Homo sapiens: one gene and its partner. The protein of the gene in region 1 interacts with the protein of each later gene in a pairwise test. Each region holds a gene or a part of one and is shown in the gene's direction. Other genes may lie near its edges. The genes, in order: TSPAN2 and DCBLD2.

Region 1 (12,130 bases):
GTTGTGAATAGTGCTGCAGTGAACATGTACCCTTTTGACAGAATGACTTATTTTCCTTTAGGTATTTACCCAGCAATGGGATTGCCGGGTCGAGTGGTAGTTCAACTCAGTTGTTTGAGTCATCTCCAAACTGCCTTCTGCAGTGGCTGTACTGATTTACATTCGCAACATTGTATAAAGTGTCCCCTTTACTCCCAGCCTTGCCAACATCTGTTATTTTTGACTTTTTAACAAAAGCCATTCTGACTGGTATGAGATGGTATCTCATTGTGGTTTTGATTTGCATTTCTCTGATGATTAGAGATGACGAGCATTATTTCATGTTTGTTGCTCGCTTGCATGTCTTCTTTGGAGAATTGTCTGTTTATGTCTTTTGCCCACTTTTTAATGGAGTTATTTGCCTTTTGCTTGTTGATTTGTTTAAGTTCCTTACAGATTCTGGATATTAGACCTTTGGTGAAAGACATTTTTAAAACAATAAAGTGTTGAGGTAGTGGGGCCAACAACACTATTATTTTTAATATGATATCATTTCTCACATTACCACATCCATTCCCTCATGAAATTATTCTTTTAGAGAAAAGGGAAAGGGAGGAGGTGGTAGAGCTAGAACAGCAGGAAATAAATACCCACCTCAGGACTGCAGAGCAGCAAGGCCTCAGGGCCCTGAAAAGAACGCTGAGGCCAGGTCCGGGTGGGGCAGGAAGCAGAGCAGCCTCGCCTGTGGCTCCTACTAGGTCTGTAAACTGCCAGATCTGCCCGCAAACCACCATCAGCAACCCAGAGGCGCCCCAGGAAGCACCCTGAATGCCAGGCCCAGGGGTTCCCCACAGAGGCGGGGCACCAGCCCCCACCCTCCCTATTAATGGGAGTGGTTTCCAGGTGACTCATATGAGTAAAATGCAAAAAATGAAATAGAGACCATTAACATGATTCCAAGTAAGACAAGTGCCAAGTCCCATATTGTATTCTAACTTATCTCAGGATCAGAGAAGGAAATACAAAAAGGCTTGGCTTTAGTTCTCTCAGAACCAGAGCATTTCTGTCCTTTTCTTTCTCTGTAAGAACTGTACGTGGGGCTTGCCTAAGCAGTAAGTGAAATCCCCACCTGAATGATGGCTGCCTCCATCACTAGAGATGCAAGACAGAGTCGGAGTGTTGGGCAGGCTTTTGAGGCTCATGGCTATTTTTCTCCCGGCTCTGCCAAACACCAGCTCTATGACCTTAAGCAAATCGCTTTACCTTTTGGGGCCCAGTTCCTCCGTGTCAAACATGGCAGTAAGAATAGCACCTCCTTTTGGTACTATTAGAATGCTCTGCAGTGCCCAGAGTCTTAAGCCTAGTTGGTCGTGGAGGCACTCGGTTGGCTCTCAGTGGTCTCCTCTGACCTCTTCCCCACAGGGCTGTATGTTCTGGTTGGAGCCGGGGCCCTGATGATGGCCGTGGGGTTCTTCGGGTGCTGCGGAGCCATGCGGGAGTCGCAATGTGTGCTTGGATCAGTAAGTGGGGCGAGGGGGTAAATGGTGGGGTGGGGGTGAGGGAGCGGCCTGCATCTGAAGGGAGTCAGTGCCTCTGGCCCCTGGCTCCAGCTCCTCCGTGGACTCTCTGAGCCCTTGGCATGCACTTTTCCTCCCTCAGTCTTGGTTTCTCCATCTCTTATATATGAATAATACTAACTAGGGCCGGGTGCCATGACTCACGCCTGTAATCCCAGCACTTTGGGAGGCTGAGGCAGGAGGATCTCTGGAGCCCAGGAGTTTAAGACTAGCTTGGGCAACACAGGGAGACCTAGTCTCTACCGGGTGTGATGGCACACACCTGTGGTCCCAGCTACTCAGGAGGCTGAGGCAGGAGGATCACTTAAGACCAGGAGTTGGGAGGCTGCAGTGAGCCATGACTGTACCACTGCACTCCAACCTGGGCGACAGAGCAAAACCTTGTCTTGAAAAAAGAAAAAAGAAAAAAAATATTATCTTTGTTCCTGCCTTATATGGGAAGTGTGAAAAGAAATGACGTCATTGGTGTAAAGATGTTTTGGGAGTAAAAGTACTTAGTAATTGTAAGGGGTGACTATGATTGTTCTTTAAAAAAAAATATTTCACAGTGGGTGAGGCAGCTAAAAGGTTTCTATAGCCAGGGAAGTGCTGTTATCTACAAGGAAAACATTTATGTTTGAGATCAATAACTTAACCAAAATCCCTCTTGTGGCTTATTTTAACAAGCAACCTCTGTTTAAAACAAAAATCAAATAATTTCAATTAACTGCTATACATTCTATGTCAGTGTAGCCTGAGAGAAACAGAAAGGAAGAAGAGGGGCAGGAGGAGAGAAAGTGTTGATATTTCTCCACAGGGAGTCAGAAACAGCAGTTTTAATAGGCAGCCTCTCATCTCTCATTACTTATTGTGATATTTGGATTTTTAACTCTGGCCGTAGCCTCTGATCTCTTGCTATGTGAAATGTCTGACTTATTTCTTTGCCATTCATTCCTTCTCTTTCTCCTACTGTTGAGCACATTTCTGTCTTGTTTATCACTGAACTTAGTTTGATCAGAGCAAATCCATAGACCAGAACAGAAATCCATCCAGAAGGACACCCCTCACCTCATCTCCTCAAAGAAGCCTTTCCAGACCACAGAATCTCCAGTCACCCCCTTCCCCATGCCCAGGCCGCATCAGTGATGCTCCCTCTCCTGACCTTATTTTATATCTTTCTAGGTCTTTTGTGTTCGTCAAGTATTTACTAAGCACGTAGGTGCCAGGTGGTGTTCTAGGTGGTGGGATTTTTACATCACTACCTGAACTTATCTTATTCACTTTTTAACTTCTTTACACAGTTATCGTATATTCCTCTGTCCAATCCAAGGTCCGTGATAACAGAGACATTTGGATATTATCTTGTTCACCACTGAATAGTCAGCACCAAGGACAGTACCTGGTGCAGAATAAATGCCTAATAAACAATTGCTGAATGAATGAATGAATGAATGAACCACATGAAAGCGATTCAGCCATTACATAAGGAAACTAAGGTGCAAAATATATAAATTGAAAAGGTATTAAATTAATGAAATTAGTATTTTCTCTCCTCTACAGTTTTTTACCTGCCTCCTGGTGATATTTGCTGCTGAAGTAACCACTGGAGTATTTGCTTTTATAGGCAAGGGGGTAGTAAGTAAAATTACTTATAATGTTTTTCTATGATGGTTAAAAGTGTTAGAATATTGATACCCACAATAGTGTTAAGAAACCAAATAATCCCCATTATTATAGTTTAAACAGAACTTTTTAACTTAGAAGTGGTGTGCAGAACTGAGCATATATGTATATGAGTGTGCAGGCATATATACATGCTCACATTTTTCTGGGGAGATAGTTCATCTCTTCCATTAGACTTATGAAGTGGTCTATAATAAAACCAAAAAAAAAAGGATCTCTAATTTAAGATTCTTCCCCATTGTGAAATGGGGTAACAGTTAGAGTACAGACTTGAGAAAGAATCTAGATTCTCATCCCCTGTCAGACTGCCATTTGTCCTTAAGGATTGGCCTGGATGGGTCCATTTCATTCTCAAAGAGCAGAGCCTACACTGCTGTGGGCTAGTGAAGCCAGTTTATATTTGCTGCCCAACTCTAGGTGTCCAGAATAGGTTATCGGGGGGACACACAGAGGAAGTAGCCTTTCTTCCTCTGTAAAACACACTGTGGGATAGAAGAGAATGGAATGGAAAAGGAGGAAGAATGGAAACTTAAGTTTGGTGTATTTCACATTAACTCTTGTGTCATTAATATTATGTTTCTGAACTTATTTTAGACTATAAAACAGTAAACATGTAGAATAGTAAATGTCACCTCCTTTTGAATTTTTCTAAAGTAACTGGCTGTGTTCATAGGTTAGTTTAAATTCAGCTACATACAGAAGTAGAATGGAATCTTAGGACCTGTTGAGATATCTGTGGATTTGAAATCACAAGCTTTTATACTAGAAAAAGCATTCTCTAAGCTTTATATGATATCTGAATGTAGAAAGTTTTCCTTGGTGATGAATACCTTTTAAACCACGTCATAAAAAGATTTGAATGCTTTTAACCAATGGGGTAACAGGAATGTATAAGTCCGGATCCTAGCTATGCATCCAAATCATCTGGATGGAGCCCAGGAATCTGGGGCCCAGTTGATGCTGAAGCCCAGTTGGGCTTGGGAACTGTCAGAAATCTTTCTAGTCCATGAAAACTGTTCTGGTTAGTCTGTCCTTCCATCCTCAAAAGCATCTTAGAAACTCCAGAAACTATAATCTTCTCCATATGTTGCTGAATTATCCTAAAATACCTATGGAAAGGCAGTATTTTTTTTTATTTCTACAGGTTTTGTGGGGAACAGGTGGTGTTTGGTTACATGAGTAAGTTCTCTAGTGGGGATTTCTGAGATTTTGGTGCACCCATCACCCGAGCAGTGTACACTGTACCCAATGTGCAGTCTTTTATCCCTCACCTCACTCCTACCCTTTCCCCTGAGTCCCCAAAGTCCATTGTATCATTCTTATGAGAAAGGCAGTGTTTTTCAAAGGTGTGGAAGAGGAGATTTTCCTTGATGAAAGGAGAATGTTTGAAACTTCCCACCCAGAAGTCCTTCATTTTTCCTTGTATTTCTTCAGGCTATCCGACATGTTCAGACCATGTATGAAGAGGCTTACAATGATTACCTTAAAGACAGGGGAAAAGGCAATGGGACACTCATCACCTTCCACTCAACAGTGAGTAACTTCACTTCTTCCTTAAAATCACAGCTTCTAAAGATTATGTGTGAGCCAGGTTCTCACCAATCACCAGGATTAAAAATAAAAATAAATTCAGTAAAGCCAAGTAGCACCACCTATTTTAGCCCTTTTGAGGGCCACAGTTTGCATTATGTGTGGAACCCTAGAAGGGAAAGATGTCTATCACACAGAGTTCACAAGAGAGACAGAAGAGCATGAACCCAAAAGACACATGCCCCAAAGAGACAAAAGAGCACAAACAAGGTTACAGAGAAAGGAGCCCAGATAAATAGCAGGCTTTGTCAGAGGGTAGCATTGTGGTGTAACAGAAACAAGTGTGACCTGTAAGTCAGAAAAGCTAATTTCTAGCTGCAGCTCTACCATTCAACAGCCTTGTGACCTTGAGCAAGTTACTTGGCCTCCCTGATACCCACGCAGCTCCCTCATTTGTAGAATGAAGGGTCACAGGAGATGGCTACACTCCCTTCTGGAACATTCAGTGGGACTGTGCTGTCCGTGGAGTGCTCAGAGCTACATGCAGTTAATCACAGAAGGCTTACAGAGGAGATGGGCCAGGCCAGAGTTATTCTGATTTTTTAGACACTGTGATATGAAGAAGTAGCTGTGAATTCCTGGGCCAGGTGTTTTCAGGTACCTAGTTCTTGTCTAGGACAAGTATGTCTTGGAAAGTGGCCACCATTTATACATTTATACGGTTTCACCTCAGCTGCCGCCAGGACCTGAAGCAGCACACAGGTTCTTTTGTCTTAAAGGGCCAGCTAGCCTAAGCAGGACACCTGTTTGCTGGCCAATCTTCAAATCTGGTCTTTTGGACCCTGGAATTTCCTGCAGCCACTTCTCCCCTCTTCCCCAGACTATTCCCAGCTAATGAGTCCTTCTGCAGCTCATAAAACTTGAGCTCCTCAGCAGGTTAAATGACTCCCAGTCTGAAAGAAGGAATCTAAAGCCCCAACCCCTTTCTAAAAAGTAGCAATTTACACAGACACTGTCAATTAGCTTCTTGCCTTGTTTGGGTTGCCTTGAGTCACTTCCCATCATAAACTCAGATGGCTTTAGCGAAGTCATTTTCTTGTTTTGCCAGCATGATTATGTGATTCTTCACTCTCCTTCCAGAAATAGCAGTCTGGGTTGCAGTGACTGGGCCTCGGAGCTGCTTTGCCGCCTCGGCACCCCAGTCCTTAGCAGGGTGCCCAGACTTGTAGCTGCTACTCCTCCCGCCTGGTCCTGAAGTCTCTTTTCTGACTCTCTAGTTTCAGTGCTGTGGAAAAGAAAGCTCCGAACAGGTCCAACCTACATGCCCAAAGGAGCTTCTAGGACACAAGGTAAGCTTCTACCAAGGTTCTTACTCTACCTGTAGTATCATGCTGCTAGCTTAGGAAGCCATTGAAGGTAGAATCTCGGATGGGATCTGCATTTTACTGAATTTGCTCTAGTGGCAGCATAGAGGATTGATGGAAAATGAATAGCGTTGAGCTGAGAGACCCATTGGGAAGGCTGCTGTCCTTGTTGTTAGCAAGAGATGTTAAAGAGGGCCCTTTAGAAAGTGACAACTACAGGAGTGGTGACCAGAGAAGAGAGGAGAATCCATTACTGGGTTTTTGGCTTCACCACCTACATAGATGATGGTGTCATTTATGGAGCTGAGGGAGAGAGGAAAAGGAGCCAATTGTGGAGAAAAGAAAATGAGCTTTGTGTTTAACATGGTGATTTTGAGGAGCCAGTGGCACTTCCAAATGGAAATATCCAGTAGGCAGTTGGAAAATCTGGTTTGTGGCTCAGGAGAGAGGTCTGAGTGTCAGCACTTGATGGGAAACTTAAAGCTATAAATACGGATTTGATCCATTAGACTTGGAAGAAAAGAAGGATGAGGATAGATCCTTGGGGGACAATTTAAGGGTGGGCAAAAGAAGAGATGCCAAAGAAGGAAACTGGGAGGGGCGGCCAGACACAAGTGAGGAGACAGCACGGGAAGGGGAGGGAATGGTCACCAGGCCCAGGTGCTGCTGTTGAGGGCAATTCAGTATTGATCAGCTGCCTACCTTATGTTCGGCACTGTGGATGCAAAGGAGAAGGAGAAAAAGTTCCTACTCACAAGGAGCTTGCATTGCAGTCTGATAGGAGGGATGAACATGAAGTCCATACGGTCCAGTGATTAGGAATGCATGGAATGTGCAACGTGCTCGGAAAGCACAGAGGGAAACGCACTTAGGAGAGGCGAGAGGCTGGGGGATGGGGAAGGCTGACAGAGGTAATGATGTCTCAGCTAAATCTTCAAGAATGGAAAGTAATTATGCAAGCATTGGGCAGAAAGCGGGAGGGGGAGGCCTGCGTGCCGAGAGACCAGCGTAAGCAACAACACAGAGGCAGAAATGACATGGTTTGTGTGGGGAACTGAAAGCCTAAGAAGGTCTACTAATAACTGCTGAAAAGCTGGCAGGATTTAGCATGCAAGGAACCAACTGGTGACGTGCTGTGAGGGATGGATTGAGGACAGAGCCCAGGTTTCAGAGAGCGAGATGTGAGGAGAGAGAGCATCCTTTCAAGAAGTTTCGATTTGAGCCAAGGACACAGAAAGAAAGTTTACAAAAGTCAAAGTCCAAATTACCATTAAACATATAGAAAATATAGAAAATTAAAAGTAATATTTAAAATCAATAGCAAATTAAAATGAAGAGATGCTGTTGTTTAATCTATGAAATTGACCAAGTGTTTTTCCTTTCCCTTAACAATAATACACAGTTTTGGTAAACGTGATGTCGTGAGCATTTTCAGAGAAATTAGTAAATAGTTTTAAAGGTCAGTATGACTATGTAAGACTAGAGGATTAAGTATGTTTATGCCCTTCTATCCAGAAATTCCACTTCTCGGAGTTTATTCTAAGGAAAAGGAATCAGAAATGCAGACAGACGTTTTTGTGCAAATCATGCTCATTACATGTTATTCATAAGAACAAAACACTGGACAGACCCTTAATATGTGGCAATAGGGGATTGTTTGGATAAATTGTAGTATATTCATATGATGAAATGTTTTACCACCATTAAGAATCATGATTTCACCTGTAATCCTAGCACTTAGGGAGGCAGAGGCAGGCAGATTGCCTGAGCTCAGGAGTTTAAGACCACCCTGGGCAACATGGTGAAATCCCGTCTACTAAAAATACAAAAATTAGCCAGGCGTGGTGGCATGTGCCTGTGATCCCAGCTACTCAGAAAGCTGAGGCAGGAGAATCACTTGAACCTGGGAGGCAGAGGTTGCAGTGAGCCGAGATCGCGCCACTGCACTACAGCCTGGGTGAGAGAGCGAGACTCTGTCTCCAAAAAAAAAAATAATCATCATAATCATGATTTCAAAGAAATTTTTAGTGAAACAAGGCATTTTTAAAGTTGTAATATTAAGTTTAAAAAGCTCACTGTTGAATATAAAGAATGACCTAAGGGTGTAGGTGTGTTTGTGTGTGTAAGTATCACCAACAAATTTATTACCTTTTATGGTGAGAATACAGACATTTCTTTTTAAAAAAAAAAAAATCTCTTTTCCAGATTTCTACAAGAAGCATGTATTCCTTTTGTGACTAAAGCCAATATACCTTTTGTACATTTGTTTTTTACAAAAAGAAGCTGGCAATGAAGGGAAGGAGGGCCTAATGGCAGAACTAGAGGAGGACAGTCTCGAGTGTTGTTTTGTTTGTTTTGATTGAAGAACTGAGCATGGTGATAGGATAAGTAGAAATGTCAATGGATAAGGAGAGGCTGAATGTATAGGAAGGAAAAAAAGTAACTGGCAGTGCAGGCTTCCTGAGGAGCTGAAAGACCCAAAGCAGGATATGAAGTTAACTGTCTTTTATTATTATTTATTTATTTATTTATTTTGAGACAGAGTCTCACTCTGTTGCCCAGGCTGGAGTGTAGTGGCATGATCTCGGCTCACTGCAACCTCCACCTCCCAGGTTCAAGTGATCCTCCTGCCTCAGCCCCGCTAGTAGCTGGGATTACAGGTAGGTGCCACCATGCCCGGCTAATTTTTTTATTTTCAGTAGAGACGGGGTTTCACCATGTTGGCCAGGCTGGTCTCGATCTCCTGACCTTAGGTGATCCACGCATCTCGGCCTCCCAAGTGCTGGGATTACAGGCTTGAGCCACCGCGCCCAGCCATGAGGTTAACTTTCAACAGAGAAGGGCACCTCTTTGGCTCTGATCAGAGAAAAAGGAGTCAGGAGTGTGCTTGCTACCTACAGCAATGCCTGGCACTGAAGGAAGGGAGCATCTAAGTGTATAGGAGAAGGAGAGGAAGAGTGAAAGAATTGCTATAGGTTGACTCTCATTTTTTCCACTAAGTAAGGGAGCCACTCCTTAGAAGAGTAGTTTTCAAACTTTTGTCAGAATGCATTATAGGTATCTCTTGTGGATCTGTGTCCTCTAAACTGTGAATTCCCAGAAAGCAGGAGAAACCATATCCTATTGTCTCTGCATCTACCACCCCTCTTCCAGTGACTAATGCAAGGTAGATGCTCAAGAAATGTTTGTTGAATGAATGAAGTGTGATAGGAAATACGAAGAGAGAAGTAAGGGTTTTATATAGCTCAGATGGTATCAAAGGAACCAACCAGTGACAAGTGAACAGATCTGAACAACCTGAGGGTACAGTTGGATTGAGAGCATCCCTCTACTTAAGAGCACTCCAAATAGGAGTGTTTGAAGTTGGAGAAACTAATAATAGTTACAGGTGATCTATTTGGCTTTCTGTCTAAGTTTCCCCACATCCATGAAGGCCCTTTGAATCTATGCTGCACAGGTGTCTTATGGGCACAGATGAAAGGATAGGAACTCACCCAGCACAGCCCAGCCCAGCCACCACAGGAGAGAATGGTCCTCTAGCTCCAAGACTTGGCTTTTCTAATTCTTGGCTTTCCTTTGTTTAACTTGAACCTGTTAAGACTTTTTAGTTTCTTAATAGGTCATGCCTACTTTGCATAGTAAATTGGGTCAAAGACATAGAAAGTATTTTAAACTGTAAATGACAATATGAAAACAAAGAGTTATTGTTTTAAGGGTATTTTACTTATTTGCTACAAGTAAGAAGTGGCTCCAAATTTTTAGATTCCTTGGAACCAGACAAATAGCTTCCTCCAGTTATATTTCAGGGCTCCGAAGAAGCCACTGGCCTAAACATGAAAATCTCACCCAAAGGAGAGGCTTCTATTTTTTTCCCCAAACTGCATTTTTGCATTAAGCTTATTAGGATGATGTTATCAAAGATGAATTGTTGAAACATGAGTAGAAGCTGGCATGGATTAACTCTCACAGAATGAACTGTAGAGATGGAAAGGATAGGATCAGGATAATGACTGACACATACAATCAGTTTTTATTCCCGACTTTTTTTCCTCAAAACAGAATTGCATCGATGAAATTGAGACCATAATCAGTGTTAAGCTCCAGCTCATTGGAATTGTCGGTATTGGAATTGCAGGTCTGACGGTGAGAAAGTTCTAGAACTTACCCTTTTTGCCCTCTAAAAAGCCTTGAAACTTTGCATCTTATTTCTTTTCAAGTGTGATAGTATCTTAAGAGAGAATTCTCATAAAGAAAAAAGACCTTTGTTCACAATGTATTACATCTTCTAAGAACAAAGCTCATAAATATATTAATAGTTTGTCCTCTAAAATATAATAGAAATTTCAACTTTAACTCATTATGACCTTGAGTGTGTCATTGTTATTAACTTCCCGTTTTAAGGCTACTATCCATAACCTAGATAAATGATTTTCAGTTCTGGGTCTCTTTCTACTGTTACAAATTCAATGCAACATATCAGGTTAATCTCTCTCACCTACGATTTGAAGAGGCAGCAGAGCATAGAGATTAATAGGGCGAGCTCTGGCATCACATGGTTTGGATTTAACTCTAGGCTCCACCATTTGCAAGCTCTGAGATCGCAGGAAAATTTCTTAATTTTTCTATACCTCAATTTCCTCGTCTGTTAATATATAAACCTTATAGGATTGCCGTGAAAATTAAATGGGATACTACATATACAGTAGTATTACAAATTAATATAAATAAAGTGTCTGGGACATATAACACTCAACAAATGCCAGCTCTCTGCATAATCTACCAGGCAAAGGCAATGGCATAGATGGTATTAAGCGTAGTGCATCCAGACCACCACCAGGTGGCTCTGTACTTCTAAAGTACAAAAGAAGAGTGTGTGGGAAGAATGGATAGCAGCGGACAGGTATGGCAGGAGTTGCGAGAGGTGGTAATGGAGAGAGTATTCGATCTACATCATTGAGATCTTTGTATGCCCCTTTGAAAGGGTGGGCTTCACCCTTAAGGAAAGGGGAGTCACCAAGAGTTGGAAGAACCTGTGGTAGAGGATAGAGGAAAGGTTGGAGGGAGGCAAGATTGGATTTGGAAGGCGGGTTAAAGGATGATTTCCATTGTCCAGGGGTTGGATGATAATAGCTAATGCTAAGATGGCACTTAGTCTCTAGCCCTCTATGTAGATTAATTCATGGCCTAAACTAAGGCAAGGGCTGTGGGAATTGTGAGGAAATCAGTGAATTTGCAGTTATCAGGGGACACACAAGCGCCTTCCCCTTTTCTGTATTTAGAGCACAGAGGGGTGGAGAAGTGGCTGGAAATACTCTGCTGAGGCCCTCCAAATCAAGGGACATTTCTCAGGTCCTCCCCACCTGCTCTGGGGATAGCCTGGCTGCAGTTCTGCAGCTCCCCAAAGGACAGTCCTGAGGCAGGTCTGAGCGTGTGCTGCATAATGGAGAGTTTCACAATCTCAGCAAATGAGCAGCCTAGAAGCATTCACCCCTGACTCGTGTCGGCAGTAGGCTGAGACTGAAGGAGTCTCACTGAAACCAGGATGGGTAGGGATTACATCCAACCTTATGGCAATGATAAAGGGGAAATGCCCATAGTGAGCCTATCTTGAGTCGGCACCCCCAGGTTTCTTCGTTAGTTCTTTTCTCTGTAAAGTGAGAGTTGCACAATGTAATCAGCTAACTAAAAGTGCATTGGGTGTCGCCCGTGCTACACACTGGTACTGAGTCCTGTCATCCAGAAGCTTGAAATCCTGTTCCTGGCCATGCCCTTACCTGCTTCTGCCCCTCCCTTTTCAAAACAACTGATCATTCATATCTTATTGAATTTAGCACTTACAGATCCTAGTCTGACTTAGGATGGAATTGAGGAGAGAACCAGAAAGTTATAGTACCCATTTTTTAAAATAAGCATTGACAGTAGTTTATGGAATGGTGCCCACAGATAGGGTTCCATGGGCTCTACAAAATTGTAGGGGAAATAATAGCGGACAAGAAGACTCTTTGGCATTCTTCTATT
Region 2 (13,007 bases), on another chromosome or scaffold:
CTGAATATCTTTGTTAATTTTCTATCTGAATCATCTGTCTACTATTGTCAGTGGGGTGTTAAAATCTCCCACTATTATTGTGTGGGAGTCTAAGTCTCTTTGAAGGTCTCTAAGAACTTGCTTTGTGATTCTGGGTGCTCCTGTATTGGGTACATATATACTCAGGATAGTTAGCTCTTCTTGCTGAATTGAACACTTTACCATTATGTAATGTCTTTGTCTTTTTTTTTAATCTTTGTTGGTTTAAAGTCTATTTTGTCAGAAACTAGGATTGCAACCCCTGCTTTTTTCTGTTTTCCATTTGCTTGGTAAATTTTCCTCCATCCTTTTATTTTGAGCCTATGTGTATCTTTGCATCTGAGATGGATCTCTTGAAGACAACATACCGATGGGTCTTGGTTCTTTATCCAGCTTGCCATTCTGTGTCTTTTAATTGGGGCATTTAGCCCATTTACATTTATGGTTGGTGTTTTTATGTGTGGATTTGATCTTGTCATCATGATGGTAGCTGGTTATTTTGCAGACTTGAAAAATATGGAATGCTTACAAATTTGCGTGCCATCCTTGTGCAGGGGCCATGCTAATCATCTCTGTATTGTTCCAATTTTAGTATATGTGCCACCGAAGTGAGCACCCAATTTCAATTCTATTCTCTTCGTTCTTAGAAAATAAAAATTTGAATTATTATATTATTATTTGCTTATCCTAGTGTGAAAGATGTCACTTGCCTGGACGATTCCAAATCCTCTAGCTTGCTATGGTTCAAACATCCTGACTTATATAGGGATGGGAACCTAGTTTCTTGTCAAGAGAGTGGGGAGTGGCGTGAAGATTTAAGTTTCTCAAAATCTCTAGTTATAGTAGTCTTCTGCTTCCTCTGAATCCTTGATCCATGCTTTCATTTCACCACCTGCTGATGCTGCCCTTGTTTATGTGGAAATAGGCATGTCCTCCACTCACAGTGCCCAAAGTCTCCCCCAATCAAGGCTGTGATTGTAGTAAACTTAATGAAGAGTTTGGGAGGAAGGCAAGGGGAAGATTACAGTATAGCATATATAGCAAACACCTTGAAATTATTTATTAGATATCCCTATTTTTAAAGCATCTTTGCATTGAAATGAGTGGGAAATTATATTTCTTACATCTCTGAAGCTCCAGCTTCCTGCCAAGTTGCTAACCAGCTTTATTTCCTCTGACCTGGCCCCATCTCCTCTCTGAAAAGGTTACCCTGCCTGTCCAAGGTTCTGTTCGCTTCTTTCACAGAATAAAACTGGGGCTATTCATATAGCCTCCATTCATTAAGACATTGCTGGGATGCAGTTGGGGGACCTGAGGATTATTTTCCAAATCAAACACACCCTTTAAGGTGCACTGGTGTTCAGCAAAGACAATTATTTCCCAGAGACCAATTCTGTAGTTATCAGCGTTTGGTTCTTTTCCCTCCTCATTAGGTAGAAATCTGGGAACTGAAGACTTAGAATTTGACGTGAGGTGAAAGGGAGATGTGAATAAAGAAAATTTGGAAGTATTATCAAACTTCAGATTTAGAATAGGATCCCATCATTTTCTGTTATGGGCAAGGAAACTGAGGTCTAGAGAGATTAGGAGCCTTGCTGGAGGTTATATAGCACTTTCAAGCAGAAATTGTATACAAGAGTCTTATCTAGGGCTGTTTCCATTATCTCACAAAACTTAATTTCTCAGAATCCAAAGAGCATTTCAACTCTGTACATCTAATTCTCAACTGCGTTGCCAGCAAAAGTCCCACAGGAAAGGATACAGGCATATAGCAGGGGAGGCCTGCAGGTTACCTAAATCATATTATCTCAGATATACTAGCATGGTCACTATTCACATTTTACTGCTATGTTAACCATCCATGTATAATTAATTTCCTAATTTCTAGGCATGATAATAATGTTATGGAAGGCAGTTTTCACATGCTTTTACTAAAATCCTTTGAAATCTCCATCAGAGATAAAATACTAGACTGAAGCCTTCTTCTTGTCATGACCCATAAGAAAATGAATTGGTTAATTTCCTAAAGTTCCTAGAAAAACCAAGAGTGTGAGAGAGACTGGGGCAAGAGATGGAGAGAGAGAAAGAGAGTAAGATGGTTGCAGTAGATGAAGATGCAAATGGAAAATGCTAAAAGTTAGTCATGTTGCTGATATATACAAATGTTAATCTTTTAAGAGAAATATTTAACATTATCATCCACTGGCAGAAATTAAATACCTTCTATAATAAATTAGATTTCTGGCACTTTTGCCTTAAATTTGCTATAACAAATATCTTTTAAAAAGTTTATAAGTGTTAAGAAAATATGAGTAATAAACTTAGGAGAGTTGACTGAAATAAGTAACTGAAAAAAGCATACAAGATAAAGAGAAAAATGTGTCCAAAACACTTCTGTTCACAGAAAGAAAGTGTCTTCAGCGGAATTCAGACATTTAGCAGCAAAGTTGGCTGTAAACATTTTCCCAAACAGTCAACAGGACAAAGAAAATGCTCCTGTGAGAACAGTAACCAGATCTTAAGGCTCTGGTCTTTGATGTTTGAAGTATTTCCCCAGAACTGCCACAATCTTCTTTCTCTCCTACCCCACTGGAAGATCACAAAAGTACATTCTTGTTCATTCCCTCTTTCTGTTATCCTGCCAAAAATACACAGTCACTGATAAAGCTCACCAATGATTCATTACATACCATCCTCCTAAGGTTTCCAGTATAAATGCCATTTTTAATGAGCCTCTTTTGTTTCATTAATGCTAACAGACATTTAATAGCAATGATGGGTGCCAAATGATTCTTACGGTACCATTTCATTGAAACCCAGATGTTTCTGCACAGACAGAAACAAAGGCACCAGCCCCCAGGTTCTTTTCCTACATTCTAATTTCCTTAGCAGTTGGCTGAGCTTGGATTCATTTGAAAGTAGGAATAGTAAAATGTAACTATTCTTTTTATATTTCCCCTTTTCCCTATAGATTAATTTGATTTTCTTCATTCTTCCATTTTTTTTTTTTTTTAATGAGACGGAGTTTCACTCTGTCACCCAGGCTGGAGTGCAGTGGTGCATCTCGGCTCACTGCAAGCTCCACCTCCTGGGTTCATGCCATTCTCCTGCCTCGGCCTCCCGAGTAGCTGGGACTACAGGCACCCGCCACCACCACACCCGGCTAATTTTTTGTATTTTAAGTAGAGACGGGGTTTCACGGTGTTAGCCAGGATAGTCTCGATCTCCTGACCTCGTGATCTGCCCGCCTCAGCCTCCCAAAGTGCTGGGATTACAGGCATGAGCCACTGCACCCGGTCTTTTTTTTTTTTTTTTTTTTTGAGAGGGAGTCTTGCTCTGTCACCCAGGCTGGAGTGCAGTGGAGCAATCTCGGCTCACTGCAAGCTCCGCCTCACGAGTTCACGCCATTCTCCTGCCTCAGCCTCCCGAGTAGCTGGGACTACAGGCGCCCGCCACCATGCCCGGCTAATTTTTTGTATTTTTAGTAGAGACAGGGTTTCACTGTGTTAGCCAGGATGGTCTCGATCTCCTGACCTCGTGATCCGCCCGCTTCGGCCTCCCAAAGTGCTGGGATTACAGGTGTAAGCTACCGCGCCCGGCCTATTCTTCCATTCTTTACTGATTAAGAAACATGAAATAAAGAATGAGAAAAAGAGGAAGAGAGATAAAAAATTAAAATTTAGGTTGAGAATCTATTTTTATTTTTAAATATCTTAATGTAGAGTAAACAACCAGAAATACAATAAAATAATACACACTTTTGAAACCCTGTAAAAAGAAGCCAGAACCTGGGCTTGCCTTGTGGAGGAACTGTAGCTTCTTGGAGCCTCTATGTGCTACAATGATGGCCCTCTCCAAACCTATCCACTTTGAGACTTGATTAGAATCCCCAGTTCTGCCCCTGGGTTATGCATCTGGGTTGCATGGGTAAAATGGTCCTGGACAAGTATTGCTCCCACTGCCTCATAAGATGTCATTCCCCAAACAAACCAAGTCCCCAGAAGCAAGGATCATGACAAAGTTGTCTAGAGCAGCATGCAGAGAATAAGAAAGGTAATATAAACTAGAATTCCACTTTACCCGCATTGTCTTAGAAATGAATGCCTATTATATTCCTTTGGTGTGAGGTCCCAGGAGAAAATTTTGATCATTTCAGAGCAGCCTTCTGTCATTGTTTGGCAACTAAGTAGAGAGACAATAATCAGAAGAGAGAATATGGGTGCAACAGCATCAATCCTCTCCCACATCTGTGCTATATTTGTAATTTTCTATATACATAAAGCAATAGGGGGCACCACAAATGTTCTCTAGCCAGACTTCCAGACCCTGTCTTCCAAAGCGAAACTCCGGAAGCTGAGGCATAAAATAACACAGAAATAGTCAAATGGCATCAGTCACTAAGACCTTCTGATTTTGCTGCTTTAAATATAACTCCAACTTGCTCCCACCTCCCTCTCTTTTTCCCTGCCAGTGACCTAATTCAGAACCTCTTCACCTCTCTAGTCTCTACTTTTAACAACTTTAAAACACTAGACAGTAAGTAAAACAGTGATGAGAAATGTAAGTGCTCCTTCCTCTTGCTTTACACGTATGTAGTCGGGATCTTTTCCTGCTATATTAAAGGGGTAGGGGTTGCTAGAGACCAAATTTTGCCTCTTCCAGAAATGCTCCATAACTGTGCTAGTTCTTAGGTGAATTCTCTGCCTCTGCCACAGTTCTATGTAGTCAATAGAATGCCAGGCTAAGATTCACACTACCTTGCTCTGCCACCACATCTGTGACCTCAAGCTTCTCTTTCAATGGTCCTATGAAAGGAGTGATTCCACATGAAATAGGTTGTCTCAGGCACTACTACTAGAAATCTTATTTCATGACTGACTGCTTGCCACATTAGCACATCATGTCTGATAGGTTCAATTCTGAATTTATGATTTTTAACTTCTACTTCTTTATCCAACCAAACCAATTCTCCTTCTTGTACTCCTTACTGTGGGAAAGACATCACCTTCTACCAGAAACCTGGAGACTTCCTCAACTCCTTACACTCCACATAATCAGTCACCAAGTTTAAAAATATTCCCCTAGTTGGTCCCGCCTTCCCAAGCCCACTTTTAATGCACTAAAAACTCACCATCACTCCCTTTAACTGCAGACTGGCTCTCCCTGGCTTCCAGTCTTGCTCTTACACCAATGTATTCCTCACCCTACTGGCTGATTGGGGTTTTTACAATAAAAACCTGATAATGACCGGGCGCGATGGCTCACGCCGTTATCCCAGCACTTTGGGAGGCTGAGGCGGGTGGATCACCTGAGGTCGGGAGTTCGAGACCAGCCTGACCAACAATGGAGAAACCCCGGCTCTACTAAAAATACAAAATTAGCCGGGTGCGGTGGCACATGCCTGTAATCCCAGCTACTAGGGAGACTGAGGCAGGAGAATCGCTTGAACCCGGGAGGCAGAGGTTGCAGTGAGCCGAGATCATGCCATTGCACTCCAGCCTGGGCAACAAGAGCAAAACTCCATCTCAAAAAAAACAAAAACAAAAACAAAAACAAAAAAAAAACTGACAATGTCATTCTTTCTTAGAACCCTTTAGTTATTTTCCAGTGATACAAAATAAAATCTTGACTCTTAGCTTGCCTTACATCTTGCCCCTCCTAACTTTTCCAGACTAGTCTCCAGTTCCTCCCATTACGTCAGCAGTAGTCAATCCAGCTCCATCAACACCATTCCCTATTGAGCCTGTGACCCAGCCTATTTTGCCTCTGGCCTGAGATCACCTTTTTCACTTTAGTTTCTTATTCAAGACACTGGCATTTCAAACTGACGGGTTTTTTTGAACTCCGTTCACTGTGGTATTGTGGCACCAGTCCACACCTCTAACAGGGCACTAATAACAATAGGTTTGTTTACATGTCACCTCCTCCTCCAGAATGTAAGTTCTTCTCAGTAAACTTTTTATGCCCAATGCCCACAATGGCTTAGAGCATAATAGGGTTTCTTAGGCATTTAATAAATGTTAATTGAATAAATTTGGTTAAAGAGATTATTGTATAAGAAATATGCAGGGGAGTTGAAACATACGACCTCCAAAGTCCTTTCCAACTTAGACTTTCATTGAAGGATATCAGTCCCTTCCATGTTTTTGAATATCACATCTATGTATGACTATGTATACATATGTATATGTATACATGTATGGCTATGTATGACTCCCAGAGCCATAATTTCAAAGCTCTCAATCTGAGCTTTCGACTAAAATATCCATCTGCCTGTTACATAGCTTCACTTATTATCTAAGTTGGCATCTCAAATTCAATACGTCCAAAATTAACTTACTTTCCCACACAACTTGTTCCACCTTAGCAGTTTTTTGTATTTGCTAATGACACCATTGTCCTTTCAGGGACTGCTGTTAAAAACATCCTACATGGCCACTCTCTTCTAAAATAAATCACTGCGTAGACCTCTGCATTCCTCTTTCCTAAAATTCTTTTTGTCGTTCCATAGGCTTACAGTCTCCATCAAACTGCTTGTGACTCTAATTAGCACTTACTTCATTCTGACTTGCATGCTATATTTCCATCTCTGTTCCACATTTCAAGATTTCTGTAGATAGACAGCAGGTGCTCAACAACTCCTTGTAGAATGGCTGCATGAAGGTTGGGATGTTAGGTTTAAATTGCCTTTGCGGCACGGATCTTGTTTTACACTTTTTTGTCCCCCACCCCCCGCCATAAAAAGAGCAGAGAAAACAGGGAACACATATATTAAAAACTGAACACTGCATCTATTATTCTAACTCGGAGCTGTTGCAACAACTGGCGGCAGTTTTAACAAAACAAGCCACGCTCTGCCATTAAAAAAAAAAAAAAAGTCCCTTAGACTCAGCTCCCAGCTAAAACAACCCAGGATCCAGGTTTCCCACCCCCTTCCAGTGGTCTGATGTGCGTCGGAGGAGCGAGGAGAAAGGAGCAAGGAGCAAGCTGGGCCTGAGGAGCAGGGAGCGCGGGATGGGGGACGTCCCGGAAGTCACTGACGAGCTGGCTGCCGCCTCTGCGGGATCAGTTTGGGCTGAGGGCCCAACAATAACAGGCGCCCGGGCCGGGCGGGGGCCGCGGGGATCCGAAGCTGGAGGGCGGGACCTGGATTGGAGGAGGCGGGTGGGACGCCTCCAAAGGCCGAAGGGGATTGGAAGAGGGAGGTAAGGGGCGGTGGAGCTCGAGGAATGGGCCGGAGAACTAGCGGGTCGAGCGAGGAGCGAGCATGCTGATTGGGTTTCGCGGAAGGAGACGGACCAGAGCTGGCCGAGGATTGGCCGCGGTGCCTAGGGGGCGTGGCCGGCGCGCGCGAGAGGGAGCGCGAGGGAGCTGGCTGCGGGCCTGCCTGCCAGCTAGCCGGAGCCGCGGGTGAGCGCGGCGAGCGGCGACCCTGGTGAGGAGCGCGGCGCGGGAGGCACGTTCCTTAGCTCCGCCGCGGCCGTCCTCCGCGGCTCGAGGACTCCGCTTCCTTCCCTCCCCTCCCCTGCGCTCCGGCCTGGGGTCTCGGCGCGGGGAGCGGAGGGAAGGGACGAAGGAGGAGTAGGTGAAAGCGGGGTGAGGGGCGGAAGGGTCCCGGCGCGGGGTGAGGCGAGGGCTGCCTCTTGTTCTCCCGCCGCTGCCGCCGTCTCCTGGTCGGGTGCCGCGGCCAGAGGCGCGCGGGGCTGCCGAGGCACCCGCACTATGCAGGCAGACTGCCGGCCGCCGCGATGGCGAGCCGGGCGGTGGTGAGAGCCAGGCGCTGCCCGCAGTGTCCCCAAGTCCGGGCCGCGGCCGCCGCCCCCGCCTGGGCCGCGCTCCCCCTCTCCCGCTCCCTCCCTCCCTGCTCCAACTCCTCCTCCTTCTCCATGCCTCTGTTCCTCCTGCTCTTACTTGTCCTGCTCCTGCTGCTCGAGGACGCTGGAGCCCAGCAAGGTGAGTGGTCCCAGGGGAGTGAGCGGCGGGGGAACCTCCGTCGGGGCTGCGGGTCTCTTGGCCCCTGAACAAATCTGCAGACGCTGCAGGGAGGCGCGGTGCGCTTTCGTGCGTGGCCGGACCTGGCTGGGTACTCACGGGGTTGAGTTGCAAAGGCAAGGTCTTGCCCGTCTGTCCCCCAAGTTGGCGCGGCTTTACTTTTTGGCAAGGCCATTTATTTTTCTGAAAGGGGGACGTGAGACCCTGCTATGAAAGCCTCGTTGATATTAGGTCCTTCTGGGGAAAATTTTGGGGAGGAAAAAGAACCTTTGGAGGTAATGACCCCTAAAGTTAAGCTGCACGGATGGATGGACACTGTAGGAAGGCAGGTTAATTAAATAGCATCTTAAGCCTATTAAAGGTAAGTGGTGGTAATTATGATCCTTTGTGAAAGAGCCCGGGTTCTGAAGCGAATGGAATAGTTTCTGCTTATCTCTGAGTCTTGGATTCAGAACATGTTCTTTACAATCCATCATTGAGGCTGGTGGTCTAGACTGCCTTGGTCAAACACTGGGTCTGACCCAACGCTATGCTAATTTGCCCAAGTGAAGCTCTCCACATTAAAAAGGTAAGCCTTTCCAGAAAGTGACAAAACTTTTTTTTTTTTCCACCTACAATCCTTGAAAAACCTGTTCCAGAAACAGGCAAAACTGTTTATTAAATACTTATCATAATGGAAGGAGAATGCAGGGTGATTTCTTTTCCCCTTTAGTACTGTTTTCCCGTAGTGTACCACACTTTTTGAATCAGTTTGGCATCAGTTTTTGAAAAGATATTTCCATTGCATTTTCCATTTTATTGCAGTGGGAAGGATAAGGATTGGATTGTTACTTATTGCTAGGAAGAGAGTTTTTTAAAAAGAAAATTGTTCTCTGCCTTTAAGCCCAGCTTTATGTTGCTCTCATGGTTTTCAGTGAAGTATGGAATCATGGCCTGTCATTAAGAAGATGCCGAACCTTGACAGGCATGTGGAAATATAATCTCTGTAACTATAAGGAAAAAATGTATTTGGCAAACTGACCCCTTACATCTAGACACGTTTCTATATAGAGTAACTCAAAATTTAGATGCTTAGCATTTAGGTTTTAGTTAGATCGTCTTCTAAAATTACTGAACATCATCATCATTTAATATATTAAAGTGTGAAATCCTTCTTTCCACTGTAGAGATGTATTTCCCTCCTGGTAGGGGGGAAAACAGGCTTATATATGGCTAACACTTAGGGCTTACTTTGTGGCTGGAACAACTGGACTAAGTGGTTTGGGTTTATTAACTCCTTGAATCTTCACTACAATCAGCTGAGATAGTTATTGTTATCCCAGTTCAAACGTAAGGACATTGAGACACAAAGAATATAAGGTACCTTGATGCAGGAGGGCATATTACTCCATAGGCAGAGTACTCTGCTTTGCTTGTTTCTGGATCTGATAGTGTTTGTATCATGTTATTAAAAAAAATCTTGGAACAGTATAGAATCAGTTACATGTCTACCTTCCAAATGAGGGATTGCCTTGTTTTTAGAAAAGGCCAGTCTACCGGGCGCGGTGGCTCACACCTGTAATCCGAGCACTTTGGGAGGCTGAGGCGGGCAGATCACGAGGTCAGGAGATCGAGACCATCCTGACCAACATGGTGAAACCCCGTCTCTCCTAAAATACAAAAAATTAGCCGGGCATGGTGGCACATGCCTGTAGTCCCAGGTACTCAGGAGGCTGAGGCAGGGGAATCGCTTGAACCCGGGAGGCGGAGGTTGCAGCGATCGCGCCACTGCACTCCAGCCTGGCGACAGAGCGAGACTGTCTCAAAAAAAAAAAAAAAAAAAGAAAAAGAAATAGCCAGTCTAATCAGACAAGCAACATTACTTCATTTTTTAAGGTTTAATATAATTTTTTTTTACCAGAACATTTTAACAAATACATTTCTCTTTAACAGTGTCATCTTATGTAAACATCAACATAAATAGAAATGATTCTGATAATTAAAAGACTTTTTTTTTTTTTAGTTCTTCTAAATTGCTTGGGTAAATTTTGCTAAATCATTTAATATTTAATCTCTTTGTACCTCAGTTTTCTACATCATTAAGGTGAGCATGCATACCTATCTCATAGCTTAATATAAATGAAATGATAGTATGCAGGAATTTTGCAAAGGGAAAAGCTTAAAATAGCTATAAATGATTATTACTAATCTCGATCTTACTAAGTTGATAAATTAAGAGCTAATTAGGTATACATCATCTGAAAACTCACAATTATTTGAGATTTGAATTTTCTCATTTTTAAAAATTAAATTTTTTACTCAAAGGACCCTAAAGCAGCCCGTGGTGGAATTCCTTTTAAGCCAGTCTTCCCAGTCTAACAGATGTTCTTTAGGGTCTACTGATATTCCCTCACATAACCTGAAAAGAAGTCTGTTTAAAACACCTTTAGAATTTTTAATGGGATTTGTACATGTTGTAATGTTCAGCTACAAGGTAGAGTTTTTACTCTATAAGAAGTCTTAAGACTGGAAGGAAATAAACTGTTGACAGTTGTTGTCTTTTGGTGGTAAAATTGTGGGACATTTCTTTATACTTTTCTAAATTTTCTGTAATTCGCATATAGTCAGAATAAAAATTAAACTGCAAAAAAGGTTTCTTTGATAGATTTTTTTTCTTTATTTGACAACTGAAGGTAGAAATGCATCTAGTATGGAGAGGTAGAAATGTGCTTCAGTGTCTTTTTTCTTTCTGACATCATTTTGAAATAGCAGAATATATTACCTTCATTCCAATTAATGTCATACATAGCTATTCCTCAATAGATTTTCTGTTCACAATGACCTTTCTTTTTATTTGGCTCCGAATAAAATGTATCATTAGTTTGAAAACTTACCGACTTTTCACAACAGATGTATTTTAACCAGTTCTGTTTCACTTATAAATTTATAAATATATTCTGTTTACCTCTATTTATTATGTTGATGTTTCACATATGGCTTGTATTTGTGTAGAGTTCTAAGTTGGATATCAAGAAGTTGGTCTTCGAAATCTTTTTTATTGAAGACTTTTTTTCTGTAAAATGTACCTCTCAAAAAAATTAAATTGGTGAAACTTATGCTGGTAGCATATTTGCTATTGTATTAAATTTATTGGAAGTTGATGGTTTACTATGATTTTAGGTCTCTGGTTTCCATTATGACTGTAGGAATTTGGGTTACTTCATATCAGGAGCTCAGCTTCCTCATTTGTATCCTGGAAGGCTTGCCTACTTTCTTGGTTAGAATGTAATTTGAACATGGTAAAATATCAGGGAATTAATTCTTAAAAACCATTAAGCCTGATTTGTTTGGGCCTATTAATATATAACATGTTGTGAAGATATTAGTTTTTCTTTGCTAATTTAATCTGTGAAACAAATCAGGTTCATTCTTAAAAAGGATGTTTCAGTTATTTGAACATATTTGGAACCAATATGTGAAAAAGTTTATATTCTGTCAAGGAATGCCTTTATTTGCTTGTGATGCAGGGAAATATTTTTGAACAATATTTGTGAGTTGCCAGAAAATAAAAACTTATTTCTCTCTGCAAATAAACATTTGTAATTATTTTTCACATTGACATTAGGTTAATTTAGAAATTTCCATTGTCTTTTCTTTGTCTGATAAAACATTGGGGCTCTTATCCAGTTTTGTTCAGAAGCAAATAAATCAAAGCATCCTTTTCTGCTATATTTCTAATTAATTTTACAAAATGAAAATTAGAAGCAGCACACAATCCACACGTGTGAATGATCAGATTGAAACAGCACATTTTTGAAACTTGTAAATGAAAAATTGATTCTAAGATTGCAGGTAAATTATAGGTAGATTTCTCAGTGTTAGAAACAAAAAGAACATATTATTTTCCCTGGGGATAGTTGATAATTCCATTTGAACATCTGAGCCTCATTTTAAAGACAAACATGTAAAAATATCTTAAAATGGTGGAATTGGCATAAGTAAAATACCAGTAGTAGAATTAAAATGACAAATTAATTTCCAAAAGTTAATAGATCATGTATGTGGGAAAGGGCTAGATTTACATAGGAGTAGAATTTAAATTTAGGACTACACTTAGCAAAGTGACACTGGGAAGTGAAGCTCAGGTAGTAATGTTGGACATTAATTGAATGCATACAAGTAGACAGTTTCTGCTTCCACTTCTTGATATATTTGGAAGGATATGGAATGATGACCCAACAGTAGAAGGATGAGGAAAAGCTTCATAAAGATAGTGATATTTGCTAAGTGTGATTGTTGAAATATGAAGTGAGACAATTTGGCAATTTTTCTGATGTGGCTCCTGGATTCGGTTTTCTTTATAACAACCTTACGGCCATAGGACTTTGTATTTATTTTTAAATATTGTATGGATAACAATGATTATTACTCAAAACTAAAAACGTAGATGATTATCCACATTTCTGTCTTCTAATCCATCGACTTATAATTTTTAACTTTCCTTTCTATTACATATTCACATACCTGCATAATCTTTTGTAGTTGTAATTTTAATAGTGTGTTCATGTAAAATTAACTTATAGGCTAATTTAGCACACATAAGCATACCTACAAAATACAGTAAAACAAAAATTTCAAAATGCAAAATTTTATCATAAGACATTCAGTATTTATAAAGTAATTACTGTATTGTTCAGAGCTGTTATTGTATTTAATTGAATTCTTCATTCTGGAGAAAAATCTTTGAGAAAGTATTTCAGTTCAAAATGTTAGTTTAGAAACAAATATCAGGCTAATTTTTCAGTTCATTATTTGGGTTAAATTAGTACAACCTATGAGGACAGAAAATACAGATATTCAAATAAACTAGTATCTAATGAGTGCCAGTGCAGTACCCACTGAAGCTGATGAGATACTCATGATTTCCAAGGGCTACTAAAACATCATTCACCAGCTGAACGTGCACCCTGATGGGTGTGTAATTGAAAGAAAAACTTTGATTTGCTGCTTGAATTATG

Evidence for each region.
Region 2: the proteins of TSPAN2 (region 1) and DCBLD2 interact in binary tests that used the Homo sapiens proteins (3 or more experiments, as listed by UniProt).

Annotation. Positions count from the first base shown.
Region 1 is NC_000001.11:115,051,504-115,063,633, reverse strand, and holds part of TSPAN2 (tetraspanin-2), read left to right. Parts: intron 1-1,401; coding exon 1,402-1,499; intron 1,500-3,095; coding exon 3,096-3,170; intron 3,171-4,652; coding exon 4,653-4,751; intron 4,752-6,025; coding exon 6,026-6,097; intron 6,098-10,171; coding exon 10,172-10,255; intron 10,256-12,130. UniProt on the Homo sapiens protein: May play a role in signalling in oligodendrocytes in the early stages of their terminal differentiation into myelin-forming glia and may also function in stabilizing the mature sheath.
Region 2 is NC_000003.12:98,896,086-98,909,092, reverse strand, and holds the start of DCBLD2 (discoidin, CUB and LCCL domain-containing protein 2 precursor), read left to right. Parts: upstream 1-7,397; 5' UTR 7,398-7,766; coding exon 7,767-7,971; exon of another isoform or gene 7,972-13,007.